4 separate regions of the Homo sapiens genome follow, and all the other regions are reported to be linked to region 2. The links are microRNA targets in miRTarBase. Many come from high-throughput screens and were not tested one by one. Region 2 holds a microRNA gene; each other region holds the end of a gene's coding sequence.
The links. The annotated mature microRNA hsa-miR-4278 reads CUAGGGGGUUUGCCCUUG and lies in region 2 at 3,153-3,170, opposite strand. An mRNA with a match to its seed (bases 2 to 7 or 8) in the 3' UTR can be bound and repressed. Matches are read on the target gene's strand: a 7mer-m8 pairs with bases 2 to 8, a 7mer-A1 pairs with bases 2 to 7 and ends in A, and an 8mer does both.

Region 1: miRTarBase lists DUS2 as a target of hsa-miR-4278. Seed matches in the 3' UTR shown: 7mer-m8 at 5,921-5,927.
Region 3: the mRNA of SMC1A is a reported target of hsa-miR-4278. Seed matches in the 3' UTR shown: 7mer-m8 at 1,277-1,283 and 7mer-A1 at 4,892-4,898.
Region 4: miRTarBase lists AP1S1 as a target of hsa-miR-4278. Seed matches in the 3' UTR shown: 7mer-m8 at 1,134-1,140 and 7mer-m8 at 1,369-1,375.

What each region holds. Positions count from the first base shown.
Region 1 is chr16:68,078,081-68,085,195 of GRCh38, reverse strand. It overlaps DUS2 (dihydrouridine synthase 2), which reads right to left. Exons shown (of 17, transcript NM_017803.5): 16 at 6,678-6,751; 17 at 5,876-6,447. The coding sequence ends at 6,210. Among named protein-coding and RNA genes, the nearest start is that of NFATC3, 3.7 kb to the left of the region's middle. RefSeq lists an enhancer at 270-349.
Region 2 is chr5:6,824,711-6,831,825 of GRCh38, forward strand. MIR4278 (microRNA 4278) reads right to left here and starts at 3,211; the gene lies at 3,143-3,211. It overlaps LINC02236 (long intergenic non-protein coding RNA 2236), which reads left to right. Exons shown (of 2, transcript NR_146281.1): 2 at 1,933-2,018. LOC105374641 (a long non-coding RNA gene) reads left to right here and starts at 5,053. Exons shown (of 3, transcript XR_925740.3): 1 at 5,053-5,100. RefSeq lists enhancers at 3,271-3,420, 5,618-6,119.
Region 3 is chrX:53,374,185-53,381,299 of GRCh38, reverse strand. SMC1A (structural maintenance of chromosomes 1A) reads left to right here. Exons shown (of 25, transcript NM_006306.4): 23 at 213-282; 24 at 570-680; 25 at 1,114-7,115. The coding sequence ends at 1,197. Among named protein-coding and RNA genes, the nearest start is that of MIR6857, 28 kb to the left of the region's middle.
Region 4 is chr7:101,159,603-101,166,717 of GRCh38, forward strand. It overlaps AP1S1 (adaptor related protein complex 1 subunit sigma 1), which reads left to right. Exons shown (of 5, transcript NM_001283.5): 5 at 917-1,674. The coding sequence ends at 964. It overlaps VGF (VGF nerve growth factor inducible), which reads right to left and starts at 5,967. Exons shown (of 2, transcript NM_003378.4): 1 at 5,772-5,967; 2 at 2,907-5,261. The coding sequence starts at 5,241. The coding sequence ends at 3,394. RefSeq lists silencers at 3,136-3,225, 3,786-3,835, 3,996-4,135, 5,898-5,997.

The DNA.
Region 1 (7,115 bases), not on the chromosome of region 2:
GCAGAGCCCAGCTACCTCTCGGGAATTGTAGTTTGGCCTGTATTCCCCCGGCGATTCCTTCTAAACCAGACGAGAGAAGGCCGTTAGCCTCTCTAATTGGATAGGGGACCACCACCGGCCAATGCAGAAGACCCTTCTCCTCATTGGGCGGAGCTCATGTCGAGGAAGGGGTGCTGAAGCACTGAGGTTCTGGGTTCGGTGATGTGGGGGCGCATCGTGTTACTCCTGATGGCTGGCTCTAGGGAAGGCATCAGGGCCCCTCAGAGTTACCTGGACGCCGCCCACATCCTCATCCCCCCACCTCAACTTTAATGGCTGAGTCTCCAGAGGGCAGGGACCGGACCGAGAGTCCAGCTAGGTTGGGGTGGAACCGAAGGAGACAGATTGCGCGACAAGTCCGGACTCTGAGCTCGCGGTCGCCGCAGGCCCACCCTCTGCGGGGCGGAGCTTTCGCCCCGGTGGCTGCGCCTTTGTCCCCACTAGCGGGCCCCCGCAGCTGCTCCCTTGACAGCATGCGCGTTTGAGGCCTCAGCGAACCCCAATGGGCAGGGCCTGTCCCTTGCTGGAAGTTGAGTAGATTGAGCGGGAAAGCCCGTTGTGAGCTCGTGCCAATCACAGCTCTGTGCTCTCTGCATCCTGCTGCATATCCATGAAAGCGGGAGGGATGGAGCCGCCTAAATTGGGTGGCTGGCAGTGGAGAGGAAGTGACACTGCCTAAAGAACCGTTTTCGTGATCTGCCCCTCCCGAGCAAGCTAGCCTTCCCGAGATGGCCCAAGACGCCTCCTCCTGGGGTCTGGGGTGAAGGCCGTCCTTGGGGACTGGGAGCCTGGCTTGTTTACCTAAGGCTCCGCTGAGGCGCAAGGTGGACAGGGACGTGAGAGAAGTAGGGTGACCGCCTCCCCTAGCTCCGTGCCCCGGGCATAGGGCCCACAGGGCATAGCATCCCTAGATGCGCGTTGCTGGAGGAACCCAGGGCACTGTCAGAGGCTTGGGTGCAGGTGCGCCCAAAAATGCTGCCCTCTCAGAGGCTACAATAGGTTAAAAAAAAAGAGAGAAAAAAAAAAAAGAAATGCCGCTCTCGCAAGGCCTACAGCACATTCCACACCGCCCACAAAGGCCAGTGGGAAGAGAGGGTAAAGGGAAGCTCTTTGCCGAGGTCTCAATGTCTGGACTGACACTTGAGCTACCAGGGAGCCCTAGAGGGAGCCAAACTAGACCTTGGGTCAGGAAGACAGGGAATGTCCAGGGCATCCAAGACGTTCATCTTGTATTGCTTCATTTCTGCCCAGTGTTTTGTACCGGTACCTGTGCTGTTCCTGGGGATTCAGAGATAAAGTCTCCCTTCAGGGGTAGGGGAGAGGGGACCAGCAAATCTATAATTACTGTACAAAGAGATGAGGGTTGTGCCAGGAGCTCAGAGACAGTTCATAAGCCTGCTAGCTGCAGGGCCTTGACAGGGGTTAGTAGGAACCGGAGTGACAGACAAGAAGTGAGCAAGTTTCATTCCAGGCAGAGAACAGATTTCCAAAGACTTGATAACCATAAAGTAACCTGCAGTGGGCAGAAGCCTAAGGTGGGGCCGGATGAGTGGGCAGAATGCTGCAGGCCACTGCAAAGTGTCTGGACTTTATCCTGACGGCAGTAGGGAGCAGTGGAAGGACTTAGAGCAGGGGATTTACATGGTCAGAATTCTGGATGGATCACTAGATTCAACTGGGACAGGGGTGAATGAAGTCAGAGGGAGAAGATAATGTGGTCAAGGAGAGGGAACAACTGGCATTAGACGGGTGGACTATCCTTCCCAATAACCTGTCCTGCCTGCAAATCTCCAACCTTGAGGGCCTGAGTGTGGAACTTGGGGCCCAAATGCCACATCAGCTCTAGAGCCCTCTGCCTCAGGCAGGTTGCTGGCCCACCTATTTGTACCACATGTAACAGGATCCTGATACAGTATAAGGTCCCAGAGGCTTGGCCAGCTCATCTGAAGTCCCTCCAGACATGACTTCACCTAAATCATGGGATCAGCCATAGTCAGACCAGACAGCAGGCAGGAGGGAGACCCTGGGCTGGTCAGCCCCTCCACTGGGAAGGGACCACAGAGAAGCTGTAGATGGCTTGAAAAATTCAACCACTCATCAAATGCTCAGCTATGCATCTGTCTTCCCAGCCACTGAGCACCTGGAGAACACTTAGAACAGATTACATTGTAGGGAGGGTTTCTGATCTCACCAAGGAATGGTGAGGGCTGGGACAGGGATGGGCACCAACTGCAGGAAGAGAGTCACCATGTGTGTAAGAAAGTCAGCAACGGCTGGGAACTCTGCAGCCTGTGAAGGGGCCTGACCACACACATACACCGATATGTACATACTCTTTCAGCCCTTTGCCCCAGCTAGGGCCAGTATGTACCCCCATGAGCTCTTCTTCAGGCAGTTCCAAAGCTCCTGCAGGTCATCTGGACCCACCTTCAGCCCTCTGAGAGCCCTGTGAAACCAGGAGGCCCACAGGACCAGTGCAGTAGGTGGAACCCCAGGGTGGACAAGGGCTATGTGGGTCACTGTACAACCACTCTCTCCTGTATGAATGCCACCCAAGACTGGGAATTAGGGAAAGCCATCATTATCATCAGCTGCCACAGGACTGTTCCCAAGCACCCATTGTTGAAGTTCTTCAGTGCCCTCTGAGCCATGGGATGGTACAGTTTAGCCTGCCCCAGTCCCTTGTTCCCCATTAGGCAAAACAGGAGCCTCTGAGGAAATTCAGAGTTTAGAAAAGTTCTTCCTCTCCATGCCAAACATCCCCCTCATCCCAAGCTCTGGTTTGATTCTTCTGTGCCTGCTCCCCAGACCCATGCCAAGGTAGCCACAGGGGACACAAGGACTGCCCTTGAGCAGCTCCCAATCTGGGAGGAGAGGATAAGACCAGCCAACTACAATCTCAGAAAGTTAGTTGCTGAAGTCAGCACAGGGTGCTGAGAAGACAGGGTCAGCACTTTGTCCTCAAATGCCAGGCTGAGGAGTTTGGACTTGGTCCAGAGAGCAGACTTAAGAGACCCATGGAAGAGTTCTGAGCAGAGTAAACTGGAAGGACCCAAGTATCCAGAACTGAGGGTGGAAGAGATTCTTTGCACACAGCCCAGTCTTCTTGCTGTGGCCTTTGAGAGACCTGCCACCCTCTCCAGCCTTACTCATCCCTTCCTCTCATGCTCATATCAAAACCATTTGTCCCCCAAATGTGATGATCTAAGGGGAAATCCTCAATCAGGCTGGCTGGAATGGATGGATAAGTGTTGTGGCTACTAGCCCAGGGAGAGGTTTGGGAGTCTAAGTGGCCCAGTTTAAGGTGGACATGGTGAGAACAATGGGCAGAGCTTTCAGGCCTGACTGTCCCCCTCCACCCCCCAGTCAGTCCCATCCTTGGGCAGGTCACTTTGAGACCAGGAAAGGCAACACTGAGGTATGCTAAAGTGAGATCATTTGAGGATTAACATATCCAACCAGGATCTCTGCCAGACATCCTCAGTCACAGAATATATAGTAGACCCACCCCACCTTCCTCCCCTGTAAAGGATTCTCTCCCCAGTGCTTCCCAGGGCCCTCAAAGCCCCCACATTACAGCCTCTATCTTAATAGCAGACCTGAATCCCTGCCTCTCCTTCCCCAGAGCCCAGAAATGAACCTGACCCTGCCAGAGGAGGGGCTTCCCCCAGGGAAACCATACTGGTGGGAGAAGTGGCCTGAGATCAAAGCCCAGTTCCACTGGGGAGGTAGGTCTTAGGACTCAGTGACTTGGTGGGGGCGGGCAGCACTGCAGCCTCTGTCTGACCAGTTCCAGTTGGAGTATAAGAAAAGGCAAAGGGGGCATTTTTGTTTTTTGTTGTTGTTTTTTTGAGACAGGGTCTTGCTCTGTTGCCCAGGCTGAAACACAGTAGTGCCATCATGGCTCACTGCAGCTTCAACCTCCTGGGCTCAAGTGATCCACCCACCTCAGCCTCCTGAGTAGCTAGGACTATAGGCACGTGCCACCACACCCGGCTAATTTTTTTTTTTTTTCGAGACAGAGTCTCACTTTGTCGCCCAGGCTGGAGTGCAGTGGCATGATCTTGGCTCACTGCAAGCTCCGCCTCCCGGGTTCATGCCATTCTCCTGCCTCAGTCTCCCAAGTAGCTGGGATTACAGGTGCCCGCCAACAGGCCCAGCTAATTTTTTGTAATTTTAGTAGAGACAGGGTTTCACCATGTTAGCCAGGATGGTCTTGATCTCCTGACCTCGTGATCCGCCCATCTCGGCCTCCCAAAGTGCTGGGATTACAGGCGTAAGGCACCGCACCCGGCCACACCTGGCTAATTTTTATATTTTTTTGTAGACAGGGTTTTGGCACATTGCCCAGCAGGCTGGTCTTGAACTCCCAAGCTCAAGTGATCTACCCACCTCGGCCTCCCAAAGTGCTGGGATTACAGGTGTGAGCCACCATACCCAGCCAAAGGAGGCATTTTGATTGAGATTGTTTTTAGTACGAAAAATCAGAAATAGGCCAGGCGCAGTAGCTCATGCCTGTAATCCCAGCACTTTGGGAGGGTGAGGCGGGAGGACTGCTTGAGGCCAAGCATTCAAGATCAACCTGGCCAACATAGCAAGACTCTATCTCTATGAAAAAAAAAAAGAAGAAAAATCAGAAATAAATTGTGCCTAAAGCTTGGTGGCTGAGACTGGACCAAGCCTCAGTCTTTCTCCTGAGTGGAGCCCTTTCTCGGGGAGCACTGGTCTGGGAAGTCAGTTAGGGCAGCCTGGCATGGAATGACCCCATTAACCATGCAGAGTCCTATCAAAGGGCCAGCCTACTGTCCTCCAGCCAGCCTCACACAGGCAGAGGACAGCGGATCCCCTCTAAGAGGAGGGCCCTCAGGACAGAGAGGACTAGAAGTGAGTTGCCCAAGGTCAAACAGCAATGAGCTCTGGGAGGCAGTGGGTAGTGCGGTATCCTTATCTGCACACAGAAAAGCAAGCGTGGGTGGCAGGGGGGAGGGGGGCGGTGCTGGAACTGAGACAGAGGCCTCACCCACCAAACCCTAGACTCAGAGGCCAGCAGGGCCAGAGGCTGCTGGCTGGCACAGGTGCCTGACCCTGTGTTAAAGTTGCCACAAAACAGTAAAGCTCTGACACAGGGGAGATGTGGGAAATACAGCTTTGACCCAGAGGGGACTCCTCCCCTCCCCACTCCCCAATGGAGCCTGGAAAAAGGGAGGAGAAGCAGCATGTTTACAGCTGAGGAAGCGGGGGCAGGACAGGGCAGGGACCTTTGGTCAGAACGCCCCTCCCAGTAAGCGGGGGAGGCCCCATGAGATGCGGTAGCCGTTTGTTTGCTTCTCACTGCCAGGAGGAAATTAAAGAGAATCTGCCACTTCCTTCCGCCCCAAGTGGGATGAGGAAGGCGGGGGACGGGAGGGACTGTGTGGTGTGATCTGCCAAACATAAGGGCCCCAAATTGCTGTCATCAGCCGCCTCCAGTGCCCCACTGTCCAAAGCAGGCACCTCATCAGGTCTGAGACTCCAGGCAGCTGTCAGGCTTGGAGACTCTGGGGATCAGACCAACACTCCCCACCCCACTGGACTAGTCCCTTACTGCAGCACCAGTTACCCTAGTCTTTCTTCCAGATTCCATATCACCTCTCATCAGGACATACAATTGATGCCCAGTGTGTCAGGTGTACCATCAGTAGAATGGGCTTCTTGGGCCTTCCTAACTTGGCCCAAGTCCAGTGATACCCCATTCCCCACCTCTACCAGACCCACAGAGATGGGCAGGAGATCCACTTTGGAAAGCTCAAGCTCTGCACAGAGGGTGGGAGTAGAATCATGCCAGGACACAAGCCCATTTATGAAGATGCCCAAGGCTGAAGCAGCCAGCCGTGGGTGAGGGTAGGGGGTGTCTTTATTGCACAGTACCAATGTCAGGTTGGGGAGTTACCACCTGAAAAGCTCCTGTTTTCAAAGAGAACTTGACCCTGTCACTCAGATCCACCAAAGGGGCCAGGATCCACCCCTGGGCGGCCCCTGGTCCATGCTCTAGGCTGATGGCCCCTGCCAGGACATCTAACTTCTGCCAGGCAAGACCAGCAAACTGTTCAACGGCATCTGGTTCATGCTGTGGCATCCACAGCCACCTTAGCACCAGGCCCATGGAGGGGTGACTAAGGCAGGAAGAGTAGTCACCAGCCTTCCAGGGGGCTTTCTTCACCACTTCCCAAGGCCACAAAGGGCTTCTTGCACAGATCCCCAGGTTGTGCTAGCTCCTGAGCTCTGGGGCCCCCAGGGTCTTGGTCAGGAGCCTCCCTCTTTCGCTTGTGCAAGGAAGGGCTCTCCTCACCCAGCCGACCCTCAGGGAGGCCCTGGCTCCGCAGACAGACGATGGCTGCAGCCTGCTCCGCCAGTTTCTTGGACTTGTCCCTGAGCAGACAGAGGGCAATAAGGTGAGGGGCAGGGTGCAGGGCTATGAGGCCTGACTCTACACATCCTTGGCAGATTCTGACAAGACTGAGTAAGGGGTCACCATCCAGGGATGCCACTGCCCACATATACCATCTACCCAACCCTCCTAGGACAATGCTGGATGTGTGGGCAGAATGCCCACTCTCCGCCCCACCCCAAGCCTCCTCTCCTATGATAAGGAAACTTACCACAAGGTAGACTGATACTTTTGTTCAGCAACGGTGACAATAGAGGAGAACAGGCGATCTAGAGGGCGTTGAACCTGATACAAAGAGAAAAGGAATCACATGGCCAGAGAAATGAGCCCTGTAGGCCAAACTGCTGGGGTCAAATCAAAGGCAGATAAAAGGAAGTGTTTCCAACCTAAGTCAAATGAAGGCTGCCTGTATCACATGCTCCTCCCAAGCAAAAGTGCCCAGTGGAGAAAGGCACAAATACACAATGACCTCAAGTGTCTGGAGCTGTCACAGACCTAAGCAAAGCGCAGCAGAGCCCTTAGCTGCACATGACTATGGAGCCTCCTGCTGACATCTGGATAGGCCAGGTCCCCAAAATGAGGAGTCACCAGATGCCAAAAGGGTGAGAAGGGACAAGCTAGGAGCAGAGAAGGCACACGTGGCAGAGGG
Region 2 (7,115 bases):
AAATAAAATCTATTAAAATATGTACATATGCATGCAACAATTCTCTATGCAATTAAAAATAATATAGGGACTTTAGAATAAACCATAAATGCCATTTACTCCTTTAAGTGACCCCTGACAGTTTCCTCCCTAGAAGGAGCCACTATTAACAATCATGCCTGTATCTCTCTAGATCCTTTTCTGTGCCTTCACATGTACTTACACGCACACTCACACGCACTTACTAATGCCCTCACACACACAGACACATGAACACATCCATACACACTCACACACACAACTGTAAAATGTAAACAGGATTCTACTTTACATGTTCCCTTCATGATTTTTCTAACAATCTTCAAAACCTTAACATGTCAGAACATACTATCAGAATTCATTCTTTTTCACTGGTTCATCATGTTACTCGTTTCCCTCTTGGGTTGTTTTCATCTTCTTGAGTAGTTGGCGATTCTTAAACATATACCCTGAATATCAATCTTTAGCCTATGGTATATGTTGCAAATATTTTCTCTTATTTTTCTAATTTTCCCTTTTTTTATGGTGTTCTTTGGTCACAGGCATGTTTTAAATGTTCATGTAGTGTTTCCTTTGACTTCTGAATTTTGTGAGCTAGAATTTACAAAATTCTATATTTACAAAATATTCTATATTTACAAAATTCTAGCTCAGAGAATCCTTCCCCATTATAAGATTATGAAGCTATTTTGATATTTTCTTCCATTCTTTCAAAATCATTTAGAATTTACTTTTGGCCATGGTATATCTAATTTTATATTTCTCCTTAATGGATGGCCAGTTACTTGAAAACCATTGAATACATGGAGGAAAGCATTTTTCCACACTGATTAAAAAATGCCACCTTAGTGATATGTCTAGATTTTCTGTTTAGTTCTATTGATTTGTCCTTTCCTCCATAAACACATTATGTAAATTTCTATAACAAGACAATATGTTTTGATATCTGGCCTATTTCCCTTAATTGTGTGTTTTAAATCAGAATTTATTAGTTTTTTTTTTTTTGCATTTATTTACTCTGCCAGATGAATGTGGGAATCAGTGTGTCAGGTTCTAAAAACATACTGTTGTAATTTTGGTCAGGATTGCATCGAATATGCAGATCAAGTTTGGGAACCTTGGGAACCTCCACAGGTGTTTGGATACAGATCTTGCACATTTCTTGTCAGCTGCATGTCTAGGCTTTCTGTTCCTCTCGTTACTGTGACTGGGATCTTTTTTCCCCTATTGCACTTTCTACTTGCTGTGACTAGTACATATATAGAAAATTGAGTCAGTGTAATTCATGTGAGTGGCGTAACAGTCTTAAAGTTTCAGTGCTTTAACACCTGTATTTCTTGCTGATGGACAAGTTGCTGTAAGCTGGGCCACTTTCATCTCAGTAATGCCTTAGCATGCCGGTTCTTTCCACTGCAACCGTGCCGAGTGGAGAATTTCTGGACTCTCTTCCTTAACATTGCTGACTGCACTCTGGCCCTCCCTTTCTGAATGCATCTCTTTCTTGTGATGGTTTTCCAAGTGGAGCTTTCACAGCGCATGCTACTAACCTCTGCTCTTCTCCAGAATGACAAAAGCCTCTGGCGTGTGACCTATGCTCCAAGAAATAAAAGGCAAAAGTTTCACTAAATATTTTGCTGCAAGAAAGTGTTGATCCAATTTTCCAGTCTTAAATATCATTTGTCTTACCTCCTGACACCCAGCTGCTAGAATAATACTATGTAGTTTAGGTTTTATTATTTTTTAAAAAATCAAATACCTTGTTTCCAGTCACTAAGTTCTTATTAGGGTAACTAACACAGGCTGATGTCACAAACAACCCACAGATCTCATCATTGAAGTGATTTCTTTCTCACATCATAGGCCTCTAATGGACTTGCTCTGATTTTGAAGGTGTTTTCTCTTTGTCTTTTCTAGGAAGTTGGGGATGAGAGAGGGGAAGGAGTAGCATCTTGTTCCGTCGGCCTCCTTGATCTAAGCCTTTGTTGTGAATTCGTTTTTACCACATTTAAAGTGTGATGCCCAGAATGGAACTCGGGGCTGCTGGCACCCCCATCCATCTTTGGAGGCCCTGGACATAATCGATGGGGCAGGCAGAAGACCTGCAGCTCCAAGCCTGCTAGTCGGTGAGCCTGGAATTGCTATGCTCTTAGGATCATGTGTTCCCACTGTGAATGCTTTTGGCGGCTTTTCCCACTGGCCACTTGGTCATATCCATACCCAGACTGAACCAGCTCTGACCCCAGGCCCTCCCCACCATGCCCATCCTACCAGGGTGCCCCCGGCTGAGGCTGCCTCTTGAGGCCACACCCTCCACCTGTATAACCCCAGCTTTGGAGCCTGCGGATCCTGCCTGAGCTGCTCTCACCCTTTGGAAACCAAGGATTGAGCATTGTTCCCTGAGTGTATTTCTGGTTATGACTTTCTCTTTTCTCCACAGAAAGGCATCTCTCTGCAGGTATTGGGTTTTCTCTGAGCTCAGCTGCTGCTCTTGGCCTTCTTTCTCCAGTTTCTGTCCTCCTCTACCAGCCTTGAGACTGCAGTGTGGAGATATGTCGCCTCTGTTTTGTCTGGGCTGCTTCTGTCTGGGATGATGGAATCCTCACTAAATGGGAAATGTTTATGGAGGAGGAGGGAGATGGGGAAGTCATTCCCTCCTGTTAACATTTCGGCTTAAGTTAGCTTATTCATATGAATGACACAAAGTCGTAATTGCTCCTAATCAAATCTGTGCACACAGTAAAGCCTCTTTTATGCAATGAGTGTTTACTTAATTGAATGTTACATATAAATGAAGGTTACTCCTTCAAGTGACAAACGTGAGGGATTTCAATGGAAAATTCTGAAAATGAGCCCCTGAAGGAGGGAAGATGGGAGATGAAAGATGCTGGAAGAGAACAGAATGGGGCCAAGACGCTCCAGGAGAGCACCGGGGGAATCCCAGTTGCTCTTGGGTTTCACTTCCAAGGGCAAAACGATGATGACAAATTGCTTTCTGAGAATCCATCCCTCTTGCAGGGACTTTCAGCCAGAGACTTGTCCATAATGGGCTCTGCATCATGTCAGAGCCCTAAACCATAATTAAACACCATTGCATTTATTAGAGTCCTCATGATGTTACCTTAGATTCTTCCCCACAAGGGCAAACCCCCTAGTGTTGATGTCAATGTTCTATGGGATTCTCCTGGTGTTAGATGATTACAGTATCACGGAAACGTGAGGCTGCATCTGCTAAGTAACGTTTCACTCCTGTGTATCACAGAGGTTCTTCTCTAAGCCCCACCCACAGGAGAGCCAGACCTCTGCATCACAGATCACATGGAGAAACTGAAACAAATGCTGACTCTCGGGAGGTGATGATAGGACTCGTTTCCTTATCATTTTTTCAGAGCCCCAGAAGTTTACAATGATAAAAACAAGAGCATTTCATGAAACAGCATGCAAAAGCCCATGCATGCTGTCTATTTTTATATAAATCAGCAGAAGATAAAGAGCTTGTCTTGATTCATGCTGTTCCTCCAGGGAATGTTTTGCAAAAAGGCAAAAAAAAAAAAAAATCAGGGAGAAGAGCGAAGCCTATAAATACAATTGGAAAGGAAAATAAAAACAACTCACTAAACGTTGAGTTTGACGAAAACATAACAAAACCAAGGAACATTTTTATGTTTTTTTCCTTTCAGTTTTACTTTTGATCATGTTTCTTCCTGAGGTTTTATGAATATATACATCAAGTGGGAGAGATAAAAACCCCAAATAACTGTAGAATGATGAGAATGTAGGAAAGAGAATGTAGGCCCTTTTATTCCATGTTATTTTTCTCAGAAAAATGACAGTTCAACCTTTCCCCTTCTGATTGTCACTGGAAAGCAGTTTTCATCTGAAATGAAATGAGTGAGGATCATGAGTTTGCCTGTATGTCTTATATGAAGCCAGCGCTGTAGTGTCCTCACTTACAAACCCGTGTTTCAAGTTTACCCCTCAATTCCTGAAAGTCTGAAATTTTAGAGGGACAAAGGAAAATTAAGAATTAAGCTAAAAAGAGTTAAATTGTGGTTAACAAACATTTCTGTAAAAGGGGCGGAAAGTAAATATTTTCTGCACCGTGGGCCACAATTCAACCCAGCTCTGCCATCGTAGCCCAAAAGCAGCAAGAGACGAGATGCAAGCAGAGGGGGCAGCTGTGTTCTAATACACTTCATGCATATGCACATGTCAATTTCACATAATTTTCACATGTCACAAAATGTTAACATTCTTTTGATTTTTTTTTTCAACCATTTAACAGTGTAAGAATGATTCTTAGCTCATGGGTTCTATAAAAACAGGTGACAGCTGGATTTGACCCATGGGCCATACTTTACTGACCTTTGTACTAAATCATGCTCTCGACCCAATTTACCTTTAAAGTTGTTCTGATGAACATATTTCAACATTCAAAAATGGTATGTGGATTCATCTGTTTTACTGAATACTTTTACTTTTGATTACTGATCTCTGTCTTGGTTAAAGATGCCAAAAACTTAGGCATGACTCATCAGGTGTTCTACCGTGACCTTGGCTCCCAGGCCAGGGAGGATGGCATAAATAGGGTCAGATGGCATGTTGTCGTGGAAACCATAATGATAGCAGCTACTAATGAAGCAGAACTGACTGTGTGTCTGGAACTGTTTGAAGGGCTTTAGAACACTAGCCCAGCTAGTCAACACGATGAACCTAGGAGAAAGGTGCTAACATTCTCATTGTGGACATAGAGAAACTGAGGCACAGGAGGCTGACTGACCTACTCAAGATGATGTACAGTCCAAGTGAGAGCATCTGCTCCCACACTCGGTTGGGCCAATCCAGGCACCACACTGACTCATTCCACTACAGAAAGGAGAGTTCTCCCCTGCCAACGACTCATCCTGAGAGAGCAGAGCAATGAAGTGAAACTGGGATGAAAATCATGAGCAATGAAATGAAATGAAACTTGTAGAGCTGCTTAATTTAAGAGTAAACAAATTCTGCCTTAAATGCCAAGGCTCCTGGCAAGTGACAGAAACCCAACATTGACTAACTGAAGCTCGCCTAAGTGGGACGACCAAGGTGAGTGTCCCAAGAGCTGAGCCCAGAGACTAAAGCACTGTCCTCAGGATGCCCCCTCCATCCCTTGCCACCTCATGTCTCTGCCATCTCCATTCTGCTTTTCAGGTCAGTCTCATTGTTCCTCACTACAATGAAACAATGTTCAGGTGGTAAAAGTTGCTTCTGACAGCCCTACCCTAGAAGCTGGTAGGTCAAATCATGAGAGTAAGCTCGCCTTCCCATCCAACTCCAGGGAAAAGTCCAGGGAGCTGCTCCAGTGACCTCCCAGTGGTGGTCAAATGCCCTCCGAGAGTGAGTGCTATGGGTGCTCTGGTGCTATTTCCTCAGCCTGTTATGAACTCAACACAATACCAGGGAGAGGTAACTGCCAGTCCCACGGACAAATGGATTAGGAAGAGAATTCCCCAAAGAAGGGACCCAGGCACGCTAGAGCCAGAGAGGATGGGCTCCTCAGTTGGTGTGACTGAACTCCAGGGAGCCCAGAGTAAGAAAGGACCCTTGGCACCCTCCAGGAGACCCCAGATAAGCCCATAACAAAACTTCATTATATTTCAGCTCATTAAACTGGCTCAAAGAGAACCAAAATGACAGCAAATGGGTTTTTCCCTAGCATTAGAATCATTGTATGAAGTGGTTCTGGCTAAGCTCTAGCGCACAGGTTTTCAGGTAGACTTTCCATAATCAGATACATGTACACACGGACACTCGCATGTGCACACGGGCATGCACACACATGCATGCACCATGCACACACACACATGCACGCACACACAGACACACATGCATGCACCATGCACGCATGCATGCACACACAGACACACACCTGCATGCACCATGCACACATGCATGCACACACACACATGCATGCACCATGCACACACATGCACGCACAGACACACACATGCACGCATCATGCACACACAAGCACGCACACACACACTCACACATGCACGCACCATGCACACACGCATGCACACATACACACGTGCACGCACCATGCACACACATGCACACACACACACAGACACTCATGTACGCACCATGTGCACACACACGCATGCACATGCAGGCACACTCACACATGCATGCACCATGCATGCACACATGCACACGCACACACAGACACATTCTTACACATGCATGCACCATGCAAACACACATGCACGCACACACAGGCACACTCTCACACGTGCACGCACCATGCACACACACATGCACGCACATACAGGCACACTCTCACACGTGCACACACCATGCACACACAGGCACACTCTCACACTTGCATGCACCATGCACACACACATGCATGCACATACAGGAACACTCTCACATGCACCACCATGCACACACACATGCATGCACACACAGGCACATTCATGCACACACAGCTTGCACAGTGTCTGAGTCATAACAAAATAGGCTATGTCTTGAAATCTCAGTGGCTTAATACAGCAACAATTGCTTCCTCACTTGCATAGACAGAAGACTCTGGGAGCTTCCATCTTGTGACTCCATACACTCAACACATAATTCCTTGATCTCCAAGGCAAGAAAATTATGCCCACTGTCTTTGAACTTCCATTTGCCAGCAAGGGCAGGTTTACACACCTCCCCCCAACCCCATAACATGACAAAATGGTAAAATGATATGCACACACCTCAGACGATGAAACACCCTTTGCCATCATTTTGTTCTCTTTGAGCCAGTTTTCAATGAGCTGAAATGCAATTAAATATTGTTGCAGGCTCATTCTGGGTCTCCTGGAGGATGCCAAGGTCCCTGGCCCTCTCAGATCTCCTGGAGGTCAGTCACACCCTCGAACTCCCCATCATAATCACCCTTATTTCTAACTAAGTATGTGATGGTTAATTTCATGTGTCAACTTAGTTGGGTCCCAGTGCCCAGATATTTGGTCAAACATGGCTGTGGATGTTTCTGTGTTTGGTGTTTTTTGAATGAGGTAAACATTTAAACAGGTGCACTCTGAGTAAATCAGATTCCCTCCCTAATGTGG
Region 3 (7,115 bases), not on the chromosome of region 2:
AGGAACCTGGAACACAGGGCTGATTGCAGAGGGGAGGGCTTTGTTGATGTCTTGGCTTTCAGGGGCTCAGGCAACTTTGAGACCTGGGTTTTTTAGTTTCTGAAGAAGTGGAGTGGGAAGCTGGCCTGTTTGATGGGCCCTGGGGCTGTCCCACCCCGCCTTGCCACCCCCTCCCCGCCTCAGTGTCAGCTCACCTACTGGTTCCCTCCCAGCTACAAGCCAGCCCCCTTCTTCGTCCTGGATGAGATTGATGCTGCCTTGGATAACACCAACATTGGCAAGGTGGGTGCAAAGAAAGTGGGGCCTGGGAGGGATGCCCCCAGGTCGGGGTTGGGTTTCAGGGAGCAACTCCTGAGCGTGCCCTAGCCGTTCCTGCTGCCTGCTCTCTGTGCCTGGGAGGCTGGGCCCAGAGTCATCCATGCTGTGGTAGTCAGTAGTCTCCTCTCAACCTCTCTTTTCCCCACCTTCCTCTCCCTACCCTACCTCTTCTGCCTTCTGGTTGTGGCTGGAAAATACTGGGGACTGTTAAGGTTTGAGCCTTGCTAAGTGCCTGGCGGCCTTTCCCACAGGTGGCAAATTACATCAAGGAGCAGTCGACTTGCAACTTCCAGGCCATCGTCATCTCTCTCAAGGAGGAGTTCTACACCAAGGCCGAGAGCCTCATTGGAGTCTATCCTGAGGTAGGGCGGGCCTGGCTCAGGAGCCAGTCCTACTCCCTGCCTGATTTCCCAGGGCAGGAAAGGAAGGCTGCAGTGGAGGGGAAAGGAGGTGGGGGAGCATAGGGAATCAGGTCCTGAATGGCCATTTGGGCTTGTTGGAGCCCTGCCTCTGGAGGCTTAGCCAGCCCAGCCAGGCAGGGCCATTGCATTTGGGGACAGGTGGAAAGGCAGGCAGAGGCAGCCAGACAGTGGAGAAAGGAGGAGAGTACAGAAGTAGGCAAGGAGCGAAGGCACATGGGACTGAGCATATCCTCTCACACCCAGAGAGAACCATTGACTGGGCTTTGGGCAGGTATGTAGGGAGGAGGGTTTGAGGCCCCTGGTCCTGGGGCACTAGACCCCTCTTAATTCTCTCCTTACAATTTTATTTTTCTTTTTCTCCCTCCTCCTTCAGCAAGGGGACTGTGTGATCAGCAAAGTCCTGACCTTCGACCTCACCAAGTACCCAGATGCCAACCCCAACCCCAATGAGCAGTAGCAGTATTTTTGCCCTCCCGCCCTGTCTGGATCCCTAAGCTGTCCCTCTCCCAATCTCTGGATATTTGACTCCCAACCTTCCCCCTACCTCCTGGCCCTTTTTGGTGTAGTCATGGGATTTAGGCACTGCTAATCAAGCATGAAGAGGAACAGAGGTGATGTTAGGTCTGGAGCAAAAATTCCTGAACGACAGGGAGTATTCTGGCCTCTGAAAGGAGGTGCTGAGCTGAACAGGGCCATCTGTTCATCACACACACCCCCTTCCTCCCCCTCATCACCCATAATCGTGGGCCCCTTGGGCCTCTTGCCCACTGTGTGTGTGGGTATGTATGTGTGTATGTATGTATCCGCATGTGTGCATGTGAGTATGTTTGCAAAATAATAAAGGATATTGGAGACCTGTTTTAGAAGGAGCCTAGGCTGAATTTGATTCCAAGAGAGCTTAGGATGACAGCACCCCTGAGCTGGGCAAAGGTACTCAGGACCTCATAGGAGTCTTAGGCAGTTACCTGAAACTGCCTTCATTCACTCATTTGTGTATTCATTCATTTATGTATTCATCAGACACATACCGAACACCCTCTATTTGTCAGGCTCTGTGCTTGGAATACAGAGTTGAATCAGACATGATCTCTACCCTCCTAGTAAGGAGATACAGTGGGTTCATGAATGACTATAGTTAGCTGAATGTCATATGTACTTTGAATTTGAGAAGTGGGTGATCCCCTCTAGGCTTCCTGGAGGTCACATTTAAGCTAGACCTTGACAAATTGGTAGGATTTGGTCAGGCACTAGGAGTGGAGCATGAGCTCTGGGGACAGACAGTTATGGGTTCTGGTCCCACTTTTTATCACTTACTAGTTGTTTGACCTTGGGCAAGTCATTTGACCTTCTGTGCCTCAGTTTCCTCATCTGTAAAATGGGGCTAACAATATTACCTACCTCATAGGATTTAATGATGTCAAGCTCCTCACTGGAGGCCTTATCCCTTCGTGGAGCCCACTAGGTGCCGACCCCTCAGAATATAACCCTCATGCCTGGACCCCTGAGAGCTTCTGATCCCAGCTATTAGGGACAGAAGAAGCCTCCAAATCTGGAAGGTGCTGAATGCCCTGCTGACTGGGAAAGTTTCAGGGCACTGATGGGGTCTACCTGGTAAGCGGAGGGCCTGAGGAAACCTGTAGCTTCAATCATGTCTGGTAACCGGGTGCCTGAGCCCCAATCTGGGTTGTGAGGAAATAGGGGAGAGGTATCCTGGGCCACATCCCAGCCTAACACCTGTGAGGTTCATTTTAGGAACTAACCTCATTAGCTATAAGGATCATGCAGAGGCAGCAAAGCCGGGTGCGATGAGCTCAGCCTTTACTCATTCACATACACCATCACACTTTAATTCCAATCTGTATATTGCTTTTTAAAAGTTAAGTCCATTCTAATTACCCAAATATGCATGAATTCATTCTCCTTTTGAGAAGTTAGATTGTTAAAGATAGTCTCATTCAGCTACCAACCACTCCTTGATCCTTCCCTTCTTAGTGGCTGTTGTTTGTTGTACTTCCGTTTAGACTTTGTTTTAATGCTTGTACGTACATATGTGAACTCATTGGAAATATTGTGTGTTTAATGCAAATGATATATTGAATTGTTTAGCAATTTGTTTTCTTTGCTTAACGATGTTTTTGAGATCTGTGCATGTTACTTAATGTAGCTCAATCCATCTTCTGTAATTGCTGTATAGATTGTCATCATATGATTACCACATTTTACTTACGCATTTCTTTTGTGATGGACATTAAGACTGTTTTTAGGTTTTGCTATTACAAAATACTACACAGGAGCATCACTATGCCTGTGTGAAAGTATATGTATGAAAGTTTACCTAGGGTTGATTCCTAGAAGTGGAATTGCAAAGTCATAGGATATTTATATATTGGTTTTTAATAATACTTCCAAATTGCCCTCCTGTACTATTTACTCAGTATTTTTCTTGAGGTTGATCTGAGGTCTAACATTGTTATCCTATATCATTTTCATCCCAAGTAGTGATATCTGTGAAATCACAGGTTTGATGTGTGCTAATTATGTATTCTTCTAATACATATTAAAAGACATAACTATCAAAACAAAATAAATTTGTCTGTTTTCAACCAAAGAAGTCACGTACCACTGGTGGTACTGTGTGCCATAATTTGGCAAATGCTGGCCTTTATGGACGAGCACAATTCGGGGGTCAGACCTGGTTCAAATTCTAGCTGTAGAAACTTGTGCAAGTTACTTCACCTCTGAGCCTAAGTTTCCACATCTGTAAAAGGAGATAATAAACACCTACCTTGCAGTAGTGAAGCAAAGAGAAAATTAAATATATATGAAGCAATTTGGCTGGCATCTAGATCATTCACAGCCCTTTAAAGGTCACCTTTGCTGTTCTCCCCACTTTACAGATAAGGAAACTGAGGCCCAAAAAGGTTTGAACCCAGGTCTTCCAAGTCATTCAAGTGCTTTCTCCACTGTACAGGTGGTTATCAACCTTGGCTGCGCATCAGAATCGTTTGTAAAGCTTTTTCTTTTTCCTTTTTAAAAAGTAAAGCAATATATACACAGGTAAAAAAATAAAATAGTACAGAAGGGCTTATAATGAGAAGCAGCAGTTCCCTGCTTGCACCCCCACATCCAAAGGATGTGGAGCTCTTTAAAAATAAATTGCTCTGGTCCCACCTCTGGAAATCTGATTCAGCCAGCATGGATAATAACCCAGATAACTAACCCCTACCTCACAGGATAAAAAGGATTACATGAGATGCCTTAGGCTAAGGCCCTGGCACACAGGAACACATGTGCTACAAAGGAGCTTTGGGGACTTAAGTCCTGAGGATCCAGGAGGTGAGGTGACTTGTCCAAGATTCCACTGGTTTAGTGGCAGAGCCTAGACTTCCACTCGGATCTATTTAGTGCTTGCCCCCTGCTCTCTCCTGTCGTGCCCCACCACCTCCTGGCATCACAGGGCAACCGTTGTCAAGGCTATGCTCACGGGAGGCTGGGCACCACAGTGTTTCCAAGAGCAAGCTGGATCCGAGTAGATTCCCTAGGGCTTGTTGGAGGAACTAGTTTGACTCCCTTATACTGTGGACGCAGTAGCCTTGCTGTAGGGAGTTGAAGAGTACTCCACAACAGTATCTTAAGTTTAACTGGGCACTTCCCTCTGGAAATCACAGTGTTGTGCACCAGGAACACAAAGATGAGTCAAATCTTTATCCTGCCTTTGAGGAGCTCACTGTTTAGTTGGGGAAACCATTTGTAAAACAGCCATTAACCATACAGTGTGATCAACACTGACAGGAGCACAGGAAAAACATCTAGCTTATGTGAAGATTCAGAGAAGGCATCCTGTAGTCTAGGTGGTGATACCTGAACTGAGTCTTGAGGGACGGGTAGGAATTAGCCAGTTGAGGAAGTAGAAGGAATTTCCAGATATTGGAAACAGTATGCATGAAGACATGAAGGCAAGAAACAGCAAAACAAATACTGAAGCATGAAGATTCCTGGGGTGGGGGGAAAGCAGCAAGAAAAGGTAGAGAGGAACCAGATTGGAAGAGGGTCGTAAATGCATGGCTACAGAATTCAGATTTGTTTTGTAGGACAGTGTGGTTCCCAAACTGGCTGTATACCACAAACAGGTACGGCATTCTGGGCCCCGGCCCCTAAAACATTCATTAAGTCTGGGGTGAAGATTTGGAATCTTGAATGCTTATAAAGGTTACCACATGACTAGGGTACAGCCAGATTTGGAAACCATAGCTTGAAGGCAGTGAGGGAGCCATGAAATGGTTTTTAATAGGGGGACTCCAGATCAGATGTGAACTTAACCTGTTTCTGGCTGGCTAGCCAACCAGCATGGAAAACAGATTAGGTTAGATGTTCATGCTGTATGTGCCCGTGCCTGTAGCTTCCCTGTTAATCAGCTTCTTACACTACTATATTTGCTTATTTTGTCTCTGAATAAGCTTTAGGCACCACAAGGGTGGGCCTGGGGATATTTTGCTTACCAGTATAGCCCCTGCAAAAAAGCACAGTGCCTGACACAAAACAGGCACCCAGTAAAGTTTTTGAATGAATGAATGCATGAGTGAATCCATTTGTGAGAGAGCGAATGGAGATGACAAGATTAGCTAGGAGACTGGAAAAAGACCAGGAGGCCTGCACTAGGGCAAAGGCCAGTAGGAATAGATTGGAGGTGTTAAGGTGTGAACTGTTAAGGTAAGATGATAACTTAATGACTGATTATTGGATGTGGAGGGTGACTGAGAGGATAGAATGAGTACCCATGAATAGCCATGATTCCTACCCTGTCCCAGTCATCTCTTTCCTTATCCATCTCTGAAACAATCTGCTTACATCCTCCTCAGCAACTGGAATTCCTCAAGTTAGTTAGACATTCTGTGTGCTGTGTGGTCTCTCACTGCCCCCCCACTCCCCACCCCTCCACAAGCCATTGATTCATTCATCCAGTTCAATAAATCTTGGCTAAGCACCTCCAGTGTGCAGTAAGGCTCTTCCAAGCCAGGACTCTGACTCCCTCTTTCCTACCTCAAGAGATGTTTTTGAGGGCTTTCCCAGGTAAGAGTCACATCTCTTATACAATAACTTATAGTGAGATACCCAGAATGTCAGACTTGTAAGGGAAGACTGCCCAAACCCCTTCTGAGGTCCTCAGAGGGGAATTAACTTCCTAAGGTCCGACTGCTAGGAAGTGTTGGAGCCAGAAATGGAAGCTAGGTTTCCTTTCTATGTCATCTCTGGAGTCTTGATCTTGATCTATCCCATTGTAGATCAGGACAGGCAGAGGTGGTCAGGGAGAAGGTGGGACTTAGGTTGAACCTTGAAGGTCAATGTATTGGACAGGTCAAACAAGATGGTTGCCAATTACACTGCCCCCTTCTGGAAACCCTTAGCAAACCTGCCATGCTTGCAGTCCCTTCTAAGGGGTTTCCTTAGCATAAGTTGCCATGCTCTGTACCATGTGACCTCACAATCCTGGCCACAGATAGCTAGATGTGGATAGTGTCTGGTTCAAGGGCAACCAATCTCTAGGCTGGCCAGTGGCCTGTTAGCTGGACTGGCATAAGGACTTCACCTTACAGGGGTGGCATGTATCAAATGGCAAATGTATGAAACAACCAGATCTTTCAGGGAGGCAGAATGTGAGCTATTCAGAAGAAGTGAACGTTAATTAGAATTTAATGAGGCATTAGTGGTGGTGGATGAGGGGTGGCCAGAAACTAAACAGCAAAAGCAAAGAGAAAGCTGCAGAAACCATAAGTAAGCAGAGGTCATGAGACATTTGTATAATGAGATCACGGAGCCACAGGGTGGCAGAAGCCATGAAGCAGCAAGGCAACAATGGGCTAGAAGCCATGAAGCAATAGGAGCCACGAGGAACAGAAACCGTGAGACAAAACTGACTATGAGATCCACAAAGCAGCAGAAGGCTTGAATAGATAAGATCATGAGACAGTAGAAGCGATGAGACTGCAAGAACCACAAGGTAGCCAGAACCATGTGGCAACATGGCAACAGGAATGGAAGAGGCAGCAGGAGCTACAATGCAGAAAAGCCATGGATTAATAGGAACTGAAGCGCCGGGAGCCATGAAGCTGCAGGACCCATGAGGCAGAAAAAGCCATGGGCTAGCATCGAGGGGGGCAGAAAGAAGTTAGTCAGTAGCAGTAGGAGGAGTATAAATACAGCCAGAAAGGAGTTGAGTCACCAATTTGGGAAGCACTAGAGAAGGGAGCAACAGATGCCTGCAGCTGAGGGGGTGACAAGATAAGCCAGGCTCTAGAGCTGCTTTGGATCATGAACCATTTTCAAGTTTCTGTTCTTCCATGAGGCTGCCTGTGTAGCTGTTCTTGTCTTCCTTAT
Region 4 (7,115 bases), not on the chromosome of region 2:
CTCTCTTTTTTTTTTCTTTTTTTTTTTTTTAACACACACATACTCCAAAGCCTCTGCGTCTCAGGAGGAAAAGGCTATGGGGATTTGGGGGCTGGCAGAGGGCACCTGGATGTTGGTTCTCCCTGCTCCCCAGCGCCCCCGCCCTCACCCCATTACTGCCTGCCCCCTCTCTGCTGTGCCATCACCGAGCCCTGGTGCAGGGAGATGAGTCACCGGAATCTGCAGTGATGAGCGAGCCCGGCCTGAGCTGGCTCTGAGGAGGGGGAGAGATGGGGGGCGAGGGAGGGCTCATCTTTGCAGTGGGAGAGAGGGCAGAACTGAACTTGCCACCTCACTGGTCGAGCTTCACCTTCCCACACACGCACACACACACACCCTGGCGCGCACACACACACACACACACACATGCCCTGGCACACACACCCATCGTGTCACCAGTGTTGCGCTCAGACCCTAATGACGCATCTCCCTGCAGCCTGGTTCACCTTCCCTCAGGGACCTGGCACTCACCTCCCTCTGCCTTTTCCCCACTCTGAAAAACAGGACCCAGTCAGCTGTACCCCCCAGGGCCCCAGAAAGATCCCCCACCTCCTTGTCCCGGCTTCACTCCCTTTACCCCCAGGTGTCAAGGCGGGGCCCCTGCTTACCAAGGTCCTGGCTTTGGGTTCTCTGGGTGGTGACGGACTCAACCTGGACCCCCCCTGCCACTGTTGGCTGGCTCTGGGGCTGGCCCTGGGAGGCTGGTGGGTGCCCCATGAAGGGCTCACTGGTCCGGCCTTGGGCTCACATTGGCTTCTCTCCCCCTCCCCCGTGTCTGTGCCTCCCCCGTCTGACTCTTCCTCGTGACTGCTGTCTTGCCCACCCTGTCGGCCTCTCCTGGTGTCTCTGCGTCACCCTCTGTCTGTCTCTGCCTTAGGAGGATGAGTCGCCACGGAGTGTGCTGGAGGAGATGGGTTTGGCATAGCCCCTGCTGGGCCGGGGTGTGGCGATGGGGTCCTGGCAGCGTGGCGGGAACGGCTGCTTCTCCTCTGCCCAGGGCCCTGTTCTTGGTGGGACTCGGCTGCCCCTCCTCTGCTGCCTCACCTTTCGGAGTGAGCTGTGGGCTCAGGCCCTTCAAACATTCCCTCCCTCCACCCCCTACCTCCACTTTCCCCTTTTCCCACTGAAGGTTTTAGAAGCTAGGAGGCAGGAAAATGTGACCCAGATGGGGGTGCTATTTGGCTTTTATTCCCTGCCTTTGCAGAACTGATGTCACCCCAGATGTCCTTCCCTCCCTAATAACTGTAAATATATAAATATGTCAGGTTAAAGGGAAAAGGTGTTCAGGGCACTTCTTGTCCTCTCTGTCCCATAACCTACCTCCACCCTCCCCCTAGCCAGCCAGGCAGCTTCTCTGCCTGGGAGGGGAGCCTGGACCCCCCTCTTTCTCCTTGGCTGCAGTGGGGCCTTTATCCAGTGCCAGGGAGGAACAACATAGTTAATTTTTTTCTAACCTTGCCACTTTGAGGGAAGGAAGGGTTGGGGGAAGGGCAAGCTTTATGGGACCCTGGTCCTGGCCCTGGCCTTTCACTCCAGTTCTGGGTGAGGCAGGAGCTGGGAGGGGTGGGGAGGGGGAGGGGGAAGTGTCTGCCTTTATGTCCTTTCTTCTGAAATAAAAGTAAAAGCATTTCTGGACTTTGCTGGCCTTGGGCTCTGTGAAGGAAGGCAGGGCTGCTGGCATCATCGGGAGGCCAAGGGGATCCTGCCAGCCTTGGGAAGAAACGGAGAGCACGCAGTTAAATGAGAATTCCAGATACACAACAAATCATTTTAGGGATAAATGTGTTGCATGCAGTGTTTGGGACACATTTAACTCTAAAACTGCATCTGTTGTGTATCTGGAATTTCAGATTTCATTTCCTGTATTTTATCTGGCCACCCTACCTTAAACGGATTTTTATGCCCAATGCGTCTCCAAACGGGCTGCCCCCAACTCCCTGAGCTGCCTTTATGGAAGGAGGAGCAACTCTTCAGGATGCGGGTCTGTTGTGGGTGATTTCGTTTGCCCAGTTTAGTTTTATTTGAATCAGTTCACAAGTACCTGCGATTAGAAAAGGCTTAAGATGGGAGGCCAAGGTGGGGAGGTCGCTTGAGCCCAGGAGTTCCAGACCAGCTGAGCAAGCTGGCAAAACCTCATCCCTACAAAAAATGCAAACATTAGCTGGGCATAATGGTGCACACTTGTAGTCCCAGCTACTCAGGAGGTTGGGGTAGGAGGATCACTTGAGCCCAGGAAGTCGAGGTTGCAGTGAGCTGTGATTGCACCACTGCACTCCAGCCTGGGCAACATAGTGAGACCCTGTCTCAAAAAAAAAAAAAAAAAAAAAGTTAAGAAGTGGCTTTAGCCAGCATGTCTCTGTGGCTGCCACTCCCTCCTCCCCGCATTTCTTGCAAAGTACCTAGGACCAGGAATGTAGGGATCAGTGGAGGGAGGTGGGTGGGTGAACACAGGAAACTCCGGCATTACCCGCGCGGCCCCAGGATCTTGGGAAAAAGGAGCCCACTGGCACCCAGAGTTGTGGCACCTTCTGCGGGTCGCCTTTTTCTTTTGAACCAGAGGTCGCTGGACTGATCGCAGACAATTGGCTCTTTTATTGCATTCCGCTGGGCCTCTCTCTGTCAAGCCCTGGGGAAAGATGACTTTACCACCAGCCCCCAAGCTGGAAGTGGAATTTCGGGTTTCTTAATGGGTGCGAGCCACATTCTTCTCCTCTAAAAACAGTTTGAGGACTTTCCCCACTTACCCCTTGCCTTAGTTTGGGGGCAGGAAGCAGGAGGAGACGGGGACTGTGGCTGGCGCTTCCCTCACCGCCCCTTGGGAAGGACCACACAGGCCCAAGGGGACGGGTGAATAACCGAGAACAAAGTCCTAATAAAATAGTCACTTTTATTTCTTAGCAAAACTATTTCCTCCGTGAGGGGTATTTACAACAGAGAAAGGAAAGAAGGGGTCAATTCACAGCGACTTGGAGAGGCTGGAGGGGCTCGTGGGAGGCCCGAAGGGCTGGAGACAGACACACTTCACACAATTAACTGGAACTGCTTTTTCCGGTTTCCGACGGGGACGTCCCCAGAGGGACTTGATGGGGCCGGGGCCCCGCGTGGCAAGGGAACTCGCACAAACCACCCGCCCTCCTGGGCTGGCCCCCGGTCACCCGCGGGTGAGCTCTGGGAGTTCGGGCTCAGGACCCGGGAGGGGGGTCTGGCAGGTCCCGACGCAGCCCGGGGACAGGGGCAGGGCCAAGGGGCAGGGCCGGGGCGCATGCAAACACCGAGGGGGAGCGGGCAACACGGAGGGGGGCGCCGGCGCGCGCGCGCGGCGGGGGCGCGCGGGGGCGGGACCGGGAAGGGCAGTCACGGGCGCCGGAGCAGCACGTGCTCGATGTAATTCTCCAGCTCCTCCTGCTCCTGCAGCCGGCGCTCCTCCGCCTCCGCCTCCTCCTGCGCGCGCCGCGCCTGGGCCTCCCGGCCGGGATAGTGGCGCGAAGGCGGCAAGGCGTGGTGGTAGTGGCGGCGGCGCAAGGCCGAGGGCGGCTGCAGTGTCCGCGGCCGGATGTAGTTGGGGAAAGGGTGGTACGGCCCTGGCGGGTACACCTCGTCCTCCTCCCGATCCCAGGGCGGGAGCACCTCGTTCCAGTCCGGCAGCTCGTCTCGTGCGGGAGCGGGGGCGGGGGGCGGGGGCTGCGGGGAGCGGACGTGGGTGGGGGCGGGGGCGGCACGGGGGGGCGGCACGGGCTCGGGAGGGGCGTTCTTCTTCCGCTTCCGCTTCTCCTCCACCTCCTCGATGATGCTGACCACGTCGTCCGCTGGCAGGTGGAGTTTGGTGGACAGCTCAATGAGGCTGTCGATCGTCTGCGGATCCATCTCCTCGTCGTCCTCCTCCTCCCCGCCCTCCTCTGTCCCCTCGGCCTCCTTCCGCCGGTGGCCCGGCGTCTCCTCCTGGGAGCGCTTGTCCTCGGCGCCGGCTTCCCCGTCCTCCTCCTCCGCGAACAGGAGCGCGTTCTGCCGCGCCCTCTCCGCCTCCTCCGCCTCTGCCTCCGCCTCGGCCGCCTCCTCATCCTCTTCCCCCACCCTCTCCTCCCCGCCGCGTCTCTCCTGCTCCGCCTCCTCCTCCTCCCTTGCACTCTCTCGCTCCTCCGCCGCCTCCTGCAGCCCCCGACCCCCGAGGCCGCGCTGCCGGGCCCCGCCCTGCAGCAAATACTGGAGCAGCAGGTCCGAGGCGAGGTCGGCCAGCCGCTCTTCCTGCGCCGCGGCCTGCCGCGTGGCCTCCGCCTGCCGCCGCCCGGCCTCCACCTGCGCCAGCCCTTGCTGGAGAAGGCGCTCGCCCGCCTCGGAGCCGCCCAGGAGTGCGCTCTCCGGCCGGCGCGCCTTGGGGAACGGGGCGGCCACGCCTTGGTACGCCTTGGACAGGGGTGCCAATGCCTCGCCTAGGTGTGTTTTGGGGGAGGACACTCCTTCCCCGAACTTGTGGGTTTCGGGAAGGGGCCCGCTGTCGGGCATACGCGCCTGGAATTGAGAGGGGGCCGGGGGCGGCAGGGGCGCGCGCTCCGGGACACGCGCCTGGAACTCTCCCCAGGAAGCGCGCCATACGCGCTCTGGCCCCGGGCTCTCCAGATTCACTCGGGTCAGCGTGTGCGTGCGGGTTTCCGTCTCTGCTGCCGCCGTCTCCTGCTGGCGCTTGGCGCTACTTGGACTGAAATCTCGCAGTTCCTGGAGCAGGGACGCTAGCGCCTCGAGCTCCTCGGAGGGATCGCTCGCCTCGGGCCCATTCTCCGGAGTCTGAGGGCGAGGCGGAGCCGCGGGCTCCGGGCTCTCCGGCGCCGGGAGGCTGTGGGTCTGGCTGCGCACGGTCTCGGTCAGCAGAGCTTCAGCTGCTTCTTCCTCCGGCCCCTGCTGGGAGCCGCTTGGTGCCGGGGGTGAGGCGGGACGGTCGAGTGCCTGCAGCAGCACCGCGGCCAGCGCCCGGGGATCCACGCCCTGGAAAAGCTCTCCCTCGTCCTGCGGCTCGGAATTCCGAGCGCCTCGGACCTCTGGGGCGCTGCCATCCTTTGGCCCGGGCACTGCGTCCCCGGCTACCGGCTCTTTATGCTCAGAGCTGAGAGGAGGAGGCTGCGCCTCAGGGCGACCAGGGGGTGCTGCCCCTAACCCGTTGATCAGCAGAAGGCAGAAGAGGGCGGAAGCCGACAATCTGAGGGCTTTCATGACCAAGAGGCTGCCGGAGACTGAAAAATAGAAGGGACCAAAAAAAGAGGATTTCTGTAAGAATTCCCCTCTCTAGGTCTACGTTCCCTTCCCCCACCTTTCAGCAGGAAACCCGGGGCTTCCCTGATCCCCCAAACCTTACCCAGAAGAGGAACGTTTAGGAGCAAAGGAGGAAGATGTTGTGCCGATCTCTGGAGCCGTGTAAATGGGAAAATAACCCCCGAAGCCCTCGCTTACCCAGGGCCTCCTCGGCCCCTTCCCTGAGCCATCTCACTGCCATCGCCCACGTACTAAGCAGCAGCAATATGGGGGAAAAAAAAATCTCTGCTCCCTCCCCGTAGGACTCCCCGGATGGTGCGTGGGCGACTTCAGCAGCAAGAGAAAAAGCTGCGACTCCCCCGTTTACCGGGGACCCTTACCAGGGGGCTCCCCGCTGTGTTTGCAACACCCCCATCGAGAGGAGAGAGAACCCTCCCTCACGCCCACGGCTGGCTGCCGAGGGTTTGAGGGACGAACAGCGGAGTATTTACCAGCTGGTGTCACGACGCGAGAGGTGGAGAGGAGGGTCGGGGCAGGGTGGGGACAGGGGAAGATCGGGACGCGTCCGCCTCGGCTCCGAGCGGTGGCCGGGGTAGGAGCGACGGTCGAGGTCTGGCGTCCCGTGGGCTGGGCTCAGCTGGGTCGGCGCGGCTCCGGGCGGCTAGCTCGCTCCGGCTTCAGCACGCTGGACAGCGCCCGCGCCTCCACCGCCTTATAAAGGGGAGCGCGCGGGGTCACGTGGGCGCGCCCCGCCCCATTGACGTCAATGTTCATTCATGGGGAAGCGGGCGGCCGCCCGGAGGAGGAAGGACGCCCGACGATTGGAGGGTGCCTGCCTCTCCCGGCCTGCGCCTGCGCGCTGGGGCCTTCGGCTGAAGGGGTGTGCGCTAGCGGAGCTCCGGGAAATGAATGAATGAATGAATGAATGAAATGCTGAAGCGGGCAGGGCGGGGGGCTATGAATGAATGAAGGAGGGACGAGGAGAAAAGGATGAATGAATGAATGGGAGAATGAATGGAAGGGTGGATGCAGAGGCGCTGGAAGGCGGGAGGGTGGGTTGCAGAGCAACTTGGAGCTGCTGGATGGAGCCCGCGTTGCTGAGTGGAATAGAAAAAGGGTAGTCCCAGCGTCTGACTGGGCACCAGTGGGAGCTCAATACTGGGGAGGGGAAGGATAAAGATTCAAGAGCCGACCAGGGGGCCGGGTTCCCCACCCCGAGACCACGCGCCCAAGGACGGCGTGAACCTGAGTGCAGAGGGACAGATCTGCACGCCTGCGGGCGCTGTCCGCGAATCGGCAGTGCGGGTGGCAGCCCCCTGACAGGGGCAGATGGGTGGATCTTGCGGTTTTGGTAATCCCATCGGGAAGGGTCCGAGTCGGAAGAGAAAAGGGAAAGAATGAGGATGTGTGTGCCTCTGGGTCGTGTCTGTTTCACGATCCGTGCTGTGTCTGGAGAAAAAGGTGTGTCTGTCCTTCTGTCCCCTGACTGCCGCTTGTGTCAAGGCCCCCCGCTGTGCCCCCTTCGGCCCATCTCTTCCCACACTCCCCCAGTCGCTTTCCCTCCTGCCGCTCCCCTCCCCCAAGGACGTTTGGAGGGCGAGACCAGAGCAGGTGGGGAGGGGGTTGCGCAGGTGGGGGGGGGGTGACTCAACTCCAGCTCTCTCCACCGCTTAAAGGGAAGGTTTGAACGCGATGGGAGGGGGACCTGCAACGTCAGAGATAGCCCCTCTCTGCCACCAGCCCCTTCGACCGTATCTCCTGCCAGAGAGGTTGGGGCTGGGGGCTTGGACAGCTAGAGGTTCCGGGGGTGGGGGGCGATGACGCACAGATTTGCG